3 linked regions of the Homo sapiens genome follow. The protein of the gene in region 1 purifies or fractionates together with the protein of each later gene. This does not show direct contact. Each region holds a gene or a part of one and is shown on either strand. Other genes may lie near its edges.

Region 1 (5,212 bases):
TGGGGGAATGAGACTGAAATGTGAGGCTTCCAGCTAGGAGACCATCAGAAGAGTCAAGGAGAGCACAGCTCTGGAGCCAGCCTACCCTGGGGTTGAGCTCCAGCCCCATGATTTACTACCGGGGTGTCCTTGTCAAGTTACTTGTTCTTTTTGTGCTTCAGTTTCCTTATTTGAAAATGGGAAGGGTAATATCCACTTCGTATTTTTTTTTCTTTTTCTTCAGGACTTAAATGAATTCATACCTATGTAATACTGAGAACAGTGCTTGGCTCATAGTAAGTCGTATATGAGTTTTAGCAATGAAAGCAAACAATATCAATAACAAAACAAAAATGCAAAACAATGACAACAAAACCCACATGGAAATCAAACCTCTACAAAACTGATGAAGGCAGTGGCTGTAAAAGTGGGGAGAGAAGTCAAAATGGAGAGGGGATGTGCTCCTTCAGTGTTGTGCTAAATAACTGGGGATGCTCTGAAACACCCCTAATTATACTGGGGTTGGAAACCCCATTTGAACTGAAGCACTGAGGTGCAAGTTTACTCTTGCATGTGGTCACACACAGAGTAAGAGACTGAAGCAGAAAGCACATCTTCTCTCCTCATTCACCTGTGAGGTGGGTTAACTGTTTTCAAAGAGAGAATAGGGAATAGATTGTGCTGTACAGCAGCTCAGAGTTGGCATTTGAAATGGAGACTAGTAAGTCTGCCATTGAAGCCATGAGTTTTCTGTGTTTTTAAAACATCTTCAATCCATGTGGACAGCTCATTGAACAGGTGCCTGGTGACTGCCCCACACTGGTGAAAATCTGTGGGTTGGCTTGGCATGCATCTTATTTATCCAGAGGTACACACCCAGAGCACACTTTTGAAGGGTTGTTGGCTCTGTGCACAGGCATGTTGTGTGTGTGTACACAACAGTATGTGTGTATGTGTGGACAGATGCGTATATAATAATTCATATCTTCCCATTTCAAGCACTGAGCTAAATTCAGCCTATACTTTTTTTTTTTTTTCTGAGAAGCCTTTCCTACTTCTGTAAAAAGAAACTCTCATTCCAAAGGAAAGAATGGGAGGCTGAAGTTATTGAAAATGAGATGGGAAATGGGAAGATAGTCACTTTGCAACTCCAAATTCCAGGTCTGATGCTTAGGGTGTTAGTCATTAAGCAAATTCTTCCTGATAACCAATTACAGAGAGGAAAAAAGAGAGTAAGTTTTTTACTGCCCCCTACCTCCTCCTCCCCCGTGCCCCGCTCCTTACCCCCAACCACCAGTGAAGGTGTTTTAGTTCTCCCCAGCCACCTGAGCTAGGGGCAGGAGACCTTCCCTTCCAATAGAGTTCCTTGGTGAAGGTGACTTCTTCATCCACTGGATGCTTTCCCAGGGCAGTTTTGTTGATCCTCCAAGAACATCAAGTCACTGTGTATGAATAGCTCCCACAGAAGTGCCGAGTGTTAAAAGAACCCTTCCTCATGACCTGATGGGATGGGCGGCAGTGTGTCCACACTTGGGCCTGACGTTATACTTGGGGAAAGGGTGGTAGTCTGAGTGTCTCAGAGCAGGGCACTGGCTAGGTGTGAGGTTTCCTACTGCTCTGTAGGCTGCTCATGCTGGAGTCCTGAGCTCCACCAGGAGTCCCTCTGGGCTGCCGAGCAAGTGGATCTTCCAAGGGGCCCATCAGCCTGCTCTGCACAAGAGTTATAGGAATTGTAGAGCCCCAGCACAACAGTCAAGACCAGCATCACTGCAGCCATCATCCAGATCACTTGCCAGTGCTGACACAGTTTGGGATACATGACTTGTAAGAAATGGACCAATTCTTCAAGTTTGCTGTCAATGAAAAAAAATATGCAGAGGCTTTAGTATACTGGGCACACATATGATACACAGACCCACAGTTCTCTCTGCGGATAGCTTCCATGCTGTCTTGAGCAATAGTTCTCAAACTTAGCTGTGCCTAGATTGGGTTGGCAGCAATTGTTCAAAATACCCCAAGCATACTAAATGAGAATATCCAAAGTTATGGTCCAGGAATCATTGGCTAAATTTTCCCAGGTGATTTTGATTCCACCAGTCCACAGCCTTGAAGTTGAGAGCTACTTATCTAGATCATTCTACTTAATTGTTTGATCATCCATCCATACATGCCCTCATCTATTCACGGGGTGATTACTGATATCTGCACTCTCCCAAGCCCGGGGGTACAGGATTGGTTGGCCATGCATCTTTTTAGCACCTAGCTGCATTAATGATCAGTTCCAAGCTCTAACCTGTGCCTTGCCTCAGATGCGTAATTCATTGTTCTCAGTTCCACATCTAACTGTGTCCAGAGTAGAAGGACTGTGCTAAACTCTAAGCAGCTTGATATCCAGTGATAAATGACAAGGGACTAGATCAACCTCAAGAGTTCACTTCAAACCATCCAAGAGCAGGCAGAAGATTAGAAGCCTCTAGCAATGTCTGGGTGGTTTGTTCATGATGTTATCTCAACCTCATTAATATTTATTCTCTAATTTCTCCCTCTTCCTCCTCTTCTTCCTTCACTCTCTCCACACTTCTTTCTCTATCCCTTTCATCTCTCTCTTCCTCTCCATTTTTGCCCCTTTTCCCTCTTGATTCCTTCCCAACTGTCTTTCATTTTGTCCTCTCTCTCTCTCTGTGGTGTGGTAAAAAGACACCGGGCAGATGGCCTGCTTTGACAAGTTCATTCTAGAGCTCTCTGAAGAAGCCCTGAGCCCCTTCATTAAGCCAGGATTTCCTGATGTTTTTAACCTCTAACCCAATTTAAAAAATAATATGAAAAATGAGAATACTGAGGATTCCTGAACCAAGGAGGTGGGGAAAGTGATAGAAGTGCTTTCTGAAGATCCTGAGGCTCATACACACACAGCAATGACCAAGCCATTGGCTGAGAAGCGGAGAGCTCAAATTTTGAGGTAGCAGAAAATGCATGACTAACAAAGGATTGACAGACTCAATAAATGCCCTCCTTAGAAAGGGACCAGATGCTCAGAATGCCTGCCTTGGATGCTAGGGCCACAGAGAACATTGACAGGTTTCCGTTCCATGCGGGAACCCCATCAGATCATTTCAGTCACAATTAAGGAAAGCACGAAAGTGAACACATTCGCTGATTTGAAAATCATTGACTATTTTCACAACTGTTGGGAAGGCAGGGTTTAGAAGTAGAAGGTTATTTTCTCTCAGCCCTTTGTAGATTCTCTAGATTCTATTTAGACAGAGTTGGATGCTAAAATGGAGCCTTTGGGGCTGTATTTCCATCCTCCAAAACAAGGTGCCAGAGTGGCTTCTCCCTACTCTAACCCCACTCTTAAGTGTGGCTCTGGAGGAAGAGACCAAGATCTGTCTGTGTGACCTTAGCTGGTCACCCATGCCTGGCCTATAAAAGAGTTTAGAAATAGATTAGAAATAGAATTTCTTTAGAAGTCAATTTTTGGTTATAATAAGTAAACTTCTGTTTCCTGAGAGTTATTGGAAAAGTAAAGGAACCTAAATGTCCTCTTAACCCCATAGAACTGGTTTGAACAGCCGTTAGGAGAAAAGACAAAAGTTTTATCTTGTCCCTTATGAGTCTCACTTGTTCAATGTCAGAAGACTGTGCTTTCTGTTTTAATATGGTTAAAATATTGGGGTTTACCCAAAGTTTATTTAAACTGATCCTCAAGAGAGCAATATTTGTAACATAATTGTTATATATAACAGATACGTGACTCAGACAAAAATACTTTAATGTGTGATGTTGAATCTCTTAAGCGATCAGCAGCTGGGCTGAACCCAGTGTTTTAAAAATGCAATAAGTAGGACATGGAACTCTTAATAACCTCAAACCTTGCTTGTTAGTGAGGCACCAACATTTCAGGGAAGAAATCATGTTTGAGAGCAGGTGCATGATAAATGTTACAGGCACCATTGCCACTCACTGATGACCAGGAGCTGGACAGAAAGGAACCAAGCTAAGCCTTACTTCCCCTGGGGTTTCATGAAATGGGAGGGAGCTGACAATTGCCTGAGATTGAATTAGCTAGATAAGACATTGAGCCCCTTGCTTTGCAAACCAGACTGTTTATATTCCATGTACTCTCTCTCTGTTTATTTCTCTTTTGTTCTTTCTCAGTGTTTGGAAGTGTTAGAAGTTCCAGTCTGTCTCTGCTGTATTCACGGGTGCCAGAGGAAAGGCTTTTTGTCTAGGGCTTTGCTTGACTGCATTAAAGGGGAGGAAGGCAATGTGGTGGACTGAGAAATATCAGCAGAGAACCCTCAGGAGGGAGATGAGGCCTAAGGAGAACAGGATCTGGTTGCTTGGAGTAGGGATTGCACTTTAATTGTTAAACTTGGAGGTTCTTTCACTGGGGAGACAGTGTGTGATTTGTTTTCAGTGGAGAAGCATTTCTCCAGTTCTCCTAACGGCTCTTCCCCTGAACAATGGGGTCGACCAGCATGGGCTGAGACCTCTGACTTTAGTTGAATTCTCCACCAACTGGGCTCTATTGATAGCTCCTGTGTGCCTATCCATTTTGCTTCTAATCTTCACTTCATTACCTATTTGTTGCATGCATGTGGTTTCCAGAGTTTTCCAGCAATGAGGCACAGATACATACCCAGATTAGATAATATTTCAGCAGCTGATTAGATATTTTGTCTGGAGCTGCCCTGGACCCCAAGATATCCCAGGGGTCTAAAAATAGATTTTGGTGAAGGTTTTCCAAGGTGGCTATTACTACATTTTAAAAAATCAAAATTCAAGACTTGTGGTTTAACTATACTAATAGAGACAACATAGCTGAATATATGAAATTGGGCTGTCCTGAAAATCCAGAATGTTGGCATGGTTATTATATCTGTGGGGTAGAGTAACACCTCATCTATGGGTGCTAGTTTATCCTATCCCTAAGCGTGAACTTCTAGGGGATAATTCAGGCCAGGTGGGGCTGAGACCTCATTCCTATAATACTTCATTGCATGGAGTGCCCTGGAACTAAATTAGGTCATTTCTACGATTCTGCATCCTAAAGGCCAGGCAGGAACCACAAGTGGGACAAGATACAGGTCTATATTCTCTTTATCTACATGTTATATTCTCCTTCCCCAACTTAGGGGAAAGTACCTTTGAAATAGGAAGTATTTTAAAAGAAAACCCCAAGTATTTCCAACCTAAAGTGAAGACCAAGCTTGATTGGTCAGCATGGTAG
Region 2 (3,500 bases), on another chromosome or scaffold:
TTAAAGATAGTATTACCCAATTTAAAATTTGCTCTAATTTGTGATTTCTTTGCTCTACATAGCTCCAGGAACCGAAGTTTATGAATCTTTTGAAAACTGAAAGCACACTACTCATGCAAAACCATCACCTGTAGATCAGATATATAAAAATAGATTCTACTATTCTTTGTTATCTTGTTAAAATTAGAATAATTCTTCAAAGCAGCAGATACATGTTCAACAGGAAAACCATTGTCTTGTATGCAAGGGAACAATGTGCGTTTTCTTTTTATATTCAATAAAATGTCTATTATTAGCTTCTATTCAGGCTCGGTCTACTTCAAGTATCTTTCTGTAAAGTAAATATCAACCAGATCAAAAAATTATAGCAGAATTCCAATGCCTCTGCATTTATGTTCTAGGAATACTGGCTCAGGCACAGCATTAATATACCAAATCTCTCACTGTCATGTTTTTTTTAAATTTAATCTATTTATTTATTTTGAGACTGGGTTATGAGACTGGGTAATTTTTGTATTTTTGGTAGAGATGGGGTTTCACCATGTTGCCCAGGCTGGGGTCTCAAACTCCTGGGCTCAAGCGATCCACCTGCCACAGCCTTCCAAGTGCTGGGATTAAAGGTGTGAGCCGCCGCACCCGGCTGCTCACCTTTAAACACAGAATTATCACATATTCTATTTCCTTAGACTTATGAAATTAATCACAAAATAACATGACTTTAATAAACACATATCATCAGCATTCTATTCTTCAAGATGCTACTCAATGGCAAAAACAAATCTACTCTCTCCTTTTACTACAAACTCCATAATTAAGTGCAAGAAAGGAGCACTTCAAAAAGCTGAGACAGTCACATTTTACTAATAAAACTAAAGTTGGGATTCTTCTTGTTTACTCAGCAAAATCAGAGTACCCACTTGCTGAAGAGAGAAACATACATGCTAGTGATAATGGGTGAATTTCTTATTTTATTATTGGTCACAATTGTGCAAAAGGCGGCAGTCAAATTTGAGATGGGGTACACCACAGAGAATTATGAAGCAAATATAGAACACAGAATTTAGATTTATGTGACAAGATTTTCCCTATTCAGTGGTTTCAAATGCTCCGTAGAATTCTGGTCATTTGCTATAAGCAGCCTTTCATAATTAACAAGAATAGCCAAATAAAACTGAATTAGAATGATGAGTAATGGGTGTTCATGATATTATTTTCTCTAATCTTCAAGTAAGTTTGAAACTTTTCATAACAAAACTGTTTCATAATATAAAAAAAAAAAAAAACCACTAAACCAAAGTGATAAAATTGCATGGTCTCAATGTTTTGGGATTCAAAGATGAAAAACAGCTTTAGAATAACCCACACATTTGGGTTACTTCATTTAAAAAAGTTTTCATGAAACAATGACTGTATCTTTCTAAATCAATGTTCTGCTAAAATGACAGGCACTCACTTTGGTTTCTTTCTCTTGTTTAAAAAATGTACTTTTTGTTTCAGTGAACCACTTTGGTTTCTTAACAGCTGTCATGTTTACCTTGACTAAGAGGGATCTTCTAGGCACAATACTACTGTATTGTATTGCACAGGACAGCAATACATGGATGTTCTAACTCAAATAACCCTTCCTCTAAAGTTTAAAAAGAGACTGTATAGCTGTCATCATTGAATAAACATTGTATATCAAAATGGTTTTCAAAGAAAATCAAAACTAGAGCTTTAGAAATTACAATTCTGTCTAATTTTTAATGACAGCTCAAAAAAATGTCAGAGGAAATCATTCTTTTTCCAAAGTAGTAGCATGGTGCTGTGCATCAGATGATTAGTTCTTGTACAATGCCTGACCATACCAACATATCTGACCTTCACCAAGTTGTATAGTATAGTCACAAGTAACGTGAATTCAAGTCTTATTCATGCCACTTACTGGCTAACGGCCTCTGACAATTATCTGCGATAAATATCCGTATTTTTTTTTTTTATTTCATTTTTTTGAAACAAGGTCTCGTTCTGTTGCCCAGGCTGGAGTGCAGTGGTGGAATCATGGCTCACTGCAGCCTCAACTGCCTGGGCTCAAGTGATTCTCCCACCTCAGCCTTTGGAGAAGTGGGACTACAGACATGCACCACCATGCACGGCTAATTTTAAAACTATTTGTAGAGACAAGTCATGCTATGTTGTCCAGGCTGGTCTCTAACTTCTGGGCTCAAGTGATCCTCCTGCCTCAGCCTCCACACAGTGCTGGGATTACAGGTGTGAATCACCATGCTCAGCCTCAAAATTAAAATTAACAGCAAAATTAAAATTAAAATTTCTACCTCATAGGTCCTTGGGGTGATCAAATGTAACTGTAAGTCAAAGTACTTTCAAACAGTAAAGTAGTAAGAATGTACAACAGGAGATCCTCCTCTGCCATCCTCCACTGACACCCGCTGTGCTCCTTCCCCCTGTGAAGCACTGATATCAAAAGGAATATTATAGCCCTCAGAAAGATGGTGAAGAACCACTGCTATAAAACAATATCAAATGAGGGAGGGGATGCTTCCTCATTTGTAAAGGGAAGAAACTAGAAAATGAATAAAGTATCTCTTTCCGTACTAGTTTATGATTCTATAAATTACTTGCAAATGTTTATCTTAAACAAATACTATCGAGTTTTACACATACACACAAAAATATCATTTATTTTTACTGTCAGGTAAATTTTCAATAAAAATTGACTAAGGTCTTTTAGGTAAATATCAAATAACAAAACAGTGGTTAATTGGGCTTTAGAGTAGCAGATATCTGTGCATGTCATATGTTAGAGTTCATATTCCAGGGCAGGCTTATCTTCAAAACATACACAGTTACATTTAAAAGGCCAAAGGAACAACTTAATTATCTGTCAAATATCTGACTGATGTGGGATTATTTTAACTCAGACCAATAAACATAGAAAAATCCTAAAACTTAACAGCTAAAAATGAGAAGTCAAGTACATTAGTTAAATCAATAATTAGTATGAAGACAGGATTAGAAACAGTTACTAACACATCAGTAGCTTAAAAAAGATTATGTGTATATCCAATAATGGTTATATTTAAATAAAAATTCATTTAAAGGTCAAGAAGACCACACAGTCAACTTCTTACAGAAATGCTGAGATAAAAGTTCTCCTTCTTAAGTTTTTCCTTTACATCTAAAAGATGAACATCTGCTTGAGAAGGATCATTTTGGTTTAACTTGTGAATCATTCACACTACTAATCTATGGCTTCAGAGAGTTACCATGACGTATTCAAAATAAGCCATTCAAGAAGAACACAAGAATTAATGAAGCAAGTCATTTGGAATAATTAGAAATTCAAGAACAGGATTTAATAACTTTTTATAAATAGTTATAGGCTGGGTGTGGTGGCTCACACCTGTAATCCCAGCATTTTGGGAGGCCGAGGTGGTCAGATCACGAGGTCAGGAGTTTGAGACCAGCCTGGCCAACGTAGTGAAACCCCATCTCTACTA
Region 3 (3,500 bases), on another chromosome or scaffold:
CTTGGTGGTGATTAAGGGAGCTGTGCTTCCTGCTTCCTTGGAAGTTAAGAGTCAAAGAAGGAATGATTTGTAAGTGCTGTAAGTAATCAGTCCAGCAGCTTCAGCGTCACCAGGAAGTTTGTCAGAAATGCAGAATCTCAGACCCCGTGCCCGTCCTACTGAATGAGAATCTGCATTTTATTAAGATCCCCAGGGGACTGGTGCATTAAAGTGTGAGGAGCGTTGCTCTGAGTGATTTTCTCTCTGCCCCATCCTCCTCAGAATCCTTCTGCCTCCTTTCTGAACTCTGGTCCCCTCTGCTTTTCCCGAGGCTGTTGGTGCCCATGTCTGTGAACCCATAGGCTGATTTGACTGAATTCCTGGGCTAACCCAGTGCCCAGTGTGTGGGCCCCAGGAGGTACCCAGTAAGGGCTGGATAAAAATGAATGTGTTGAAGGCAGGGGTGGCCTTGGTGGGCAGATGGGCCAGGTCACCTGGGAGATGGGAAGGGGGCATTAGTTGGGGAGGGAGGCAGAGGCAGCATTCAGATTCTGGCCAGAGCTCTTCAGTGCAAAGTGGACGAGGCCAATTAGAGCCTCCTGGAGAATTAGAGGTCCTAGTGAAGATTGTACATTAACTCTAGGTGGGAAGGATGGGAGGGATCTGGGTAGTGGATCCAGGAGCGGTTGAGACTGCCAGCCGGCCAGCAAGGGAAAGCAGGCCCACGCCTGTTCTTGGCAGGAGAGCAAGGCCAATGCCACTGCTTTATCCCTTACCCTAGGTGGGAGCAGCAGAGGCCAGGGATGGAGTAGCTGATTAGGGCCAACAAAAAGTGGAGGATTGAATGTGGCCTCAGGCCAGTGGCTAGGGAGAACTGGCCTTGGGTACACAGGGTGGACCCATCAGGATCTCAAGTCATCTCTTGAAGATCTCTTTTTTTTTTTTTGAGACAGAGTTTCACTCTTGTTGCCCAGGCTGGAGTACAATGGGGCGATCTTAGTTCACTGCAACCTCAGCCTCCTGGGTTCAAGCGATTCTTCTGCCTCAGCCTCCCGAGTAGCTGGGATTACAGGCATGTGCCTCCACACCCAGCTAATTTTGTATTTTTAGTAGAGACTGGGTTTCTCCATGTTGGTCAGGCTGGTCTCAAACTCCCGACCTCAGATGATCCGCCTGCCTCGGCCTCCCAAAGTGTTGGGATTACAGCCGCGAGCCACTGTGCCTGGCGAAGATCTCTTATGAGTACCCAGAGAGGTAGCCCCAGACCCACAGAAAGTAAACTGGGGGAGTGCAGGTGAACTGGGTCTTGGAGCTGAGCTTTCAACATTTGTCAAAGTGCCTCTGCCCACCCATGGCTCAGCCTTGGAGCCTATTTGGAGCTCTCAGGGCCTCTGGACCTGGATCACCCAGGGCTGGGTAATCATAGTGAGTAGGAGATGCTGCCTCTTACCCATGGGATTCTCTGTCTACCTGCCAGCCTGACCTGCTTCCCTGGAGGTCAGGACCCAAGAAGTATGGGGGTGAATATAGACGAAGCCCCAGGTCTCCAGGCTCAGGATCCCTAGGTCGGAAACCTCAGAGGCATAGCTCTCAGGAAGGGTGTCTGTCTCATGTTCCATCACCAACTTGTTGGGTGGTTTCTGTTTTGTTTTGTTTGAAATGGGGTCTTTGTCACCCAGGCTGGAATGCAGTAGTGTGATCTGGGTTCACTGCAGCCTTAATCTCCCAGGCTCAAGCAATCCTTACAACTCAGCCGCCCGAGTAGCTGGGACTACAGGCGTGTGCTACCGCATCTGGCTAGTTTTTGTATTTTTTATAGAGATGGGGTCTCCCCTTGCTGCCCAAGCTAATCTAAAACTCCTGGGCTCAAGTGATCCTCCCTCCTCTGCCTCCCAAAGTGCTGGGATTACAGGCATGAGCCGCCGTGCCTGGCCGTTGCTGGATGCTTTGAACAAGGCCCTGCCTTCTCAGAGTGAGTTTCCGTCAGCCTGCATTATCCTCTATGGTGCTCTGGCTGTACCTGAGAATCACCTGGGGATTAAAAAAAAAATTTCAGCTCCCAAGTCCCATGCCAGACCAACTGAATCACCATCTCTAGGGCTAAGGTCTGGGTGTTAGATTTTTAAAAAGTTCTCCAGGTGGTTTTAATGAGTACCTGGGGCCGGGATCCCTGATCTGGGGGCCCTCCCAGGCTGACAGGCTGTGAGGAAGCCTGCCTGCTAGGTCTACCTGCCCCTCAGCCCAGAAGGCCCATCTCTTTGCCCTCATCAGACTTCATAATGTCATTCAACAAACATTTATTAGGCATCTACCATGTGCTAGGCAAGGCACTGTTTTAGGCACTGCAGAATCAGTGGTACCCAAGGCACAGGTCCAGCTTGTTCCGTTCTGTGCAGTGGGGCCCTTTGAGCCTTAAGTCTGAGACACATGTAATTCCAGGAGCAGGGGACTGCCTTTCCCTCGCTGATAGCATTCCCTGGGTGGATTTCAGACCTGTCTTGGCTTTCTTTCTTTTATTTTTTTGGAGAGAGTTTTGCTCTTGTTTTCCAGGCTGGAGTACAATGGCACAATCTCAGCTCACCACAACCTTCGCCTCCCAGGTTCAAGCGATTCTCCTGCCTCAGCCTCCCGAGTAGCTGGGATTACAGGCATGTGCCACCACGCCCGGCTAATTTTTTTGTATTTTTAGTAGAGATGGGGTTTCTCCATGTTGGTCAAGCTGGTCTTGAACTGCTGACCTCAGGTGATCTGCCTGCCTCGGCTTCCCAAAGTGCTGGGATTACAGGCATGAGCCACTGTACCCGGCTTGGCTTTCATTTAATTGTGATTTCATTGGAAGAAGATGTTAGACTTCTGTTCTGTACCTCAAGGCAGATTCTTGGTCTTAGCCTAATCCATGCAACTCATTTTTTGAAAATATATATATTTTTTCAGATTAAAAAAAAATATACATTCCATGGAGAAAATGTGAAAAACTCAAAAAAATGATCTGTAATACCACTATGGCTTACATGAACATTCCCTATGACCTTCTAGCCTTTTATATTCATAAATGAACATTTACAAACAATATCAAACTGCACGTATGGCTTTGTACCCTGTCCTTTTTTGCATATATATAGTGAGCTGTATTTTCCCATGCCAACACACCATTGTTATGGCTGCACAGCCATGGTATGCTGTACCTTAATTTATTTAAGCAACTCTAGTATTCAACATTCAGGCTCTTTGTAAATTTTTGCTGTTAAGAACAATTTGCCCTGAACATCCTAGTGCATGCATGCCTGAACACTTGTCTAGTTATAGTTATCCTCTCAGGTAATACGTTCCCAGAAATGGAGATCAAAGACAAGGTACACCTTTAACTCTTAGGCTGTCTAACTTTTTGTGTTTCTGTGGTGGTGGAGGGGTATAGGAACAGAACTTGGTGCCACAGAGGGTCAGACATGATTCATGTCATGTGTGAGTGTTGCACTAGCATGTGGGGAGTAAGACCAGCCTCTGCCCTCAAGGTTAGGTAC

Evidence for each region. Proteins that work in one complex are often made in the same cells at the same time.
Region 2: the proteins of IRAG1 (region 1) and ITPRID2 purify together in Homo sapiens (affinity purification with mass spectrometry; one large-scale study listed by BioGRID and IntAct). This does not show direct contact.
Region 3: the proteins of IRAG1 (region 1) and ITPR3 purify together in Homo sapiens (affinity purification with mass spectrometry; one large-scale study listed by BioGRID and IntAct). This does not show direct contact.

Annotation. Positions count from the first base shown.
Region 1 is NC_000011.10:10,574,744-10,579,955, forward strand, and holds part of IRAG1 (inositol 1,4,5-triphosphate receptor associated 1), read right to left. Parts: intron 1,833-5,212; coding exon 1,589-1,832; 3' UTR 1-1,588.
Region 2 is NC_000002.12:181,905,230-181,908,729, reverse strand, and holds part of ITPRID2 (protein ITPRID2), read right to left. Parts: intron 1-3,500.
Region 3 is NC_000006.12:33,624,322-33,627,821, forward strand, and holds part of ITPR3 (inositol 1,4,5-trisphosphate-gated calcium channel ITPR3), read left to right. Parts: exon of another isoform or gene 1-69; intron 70-3,500.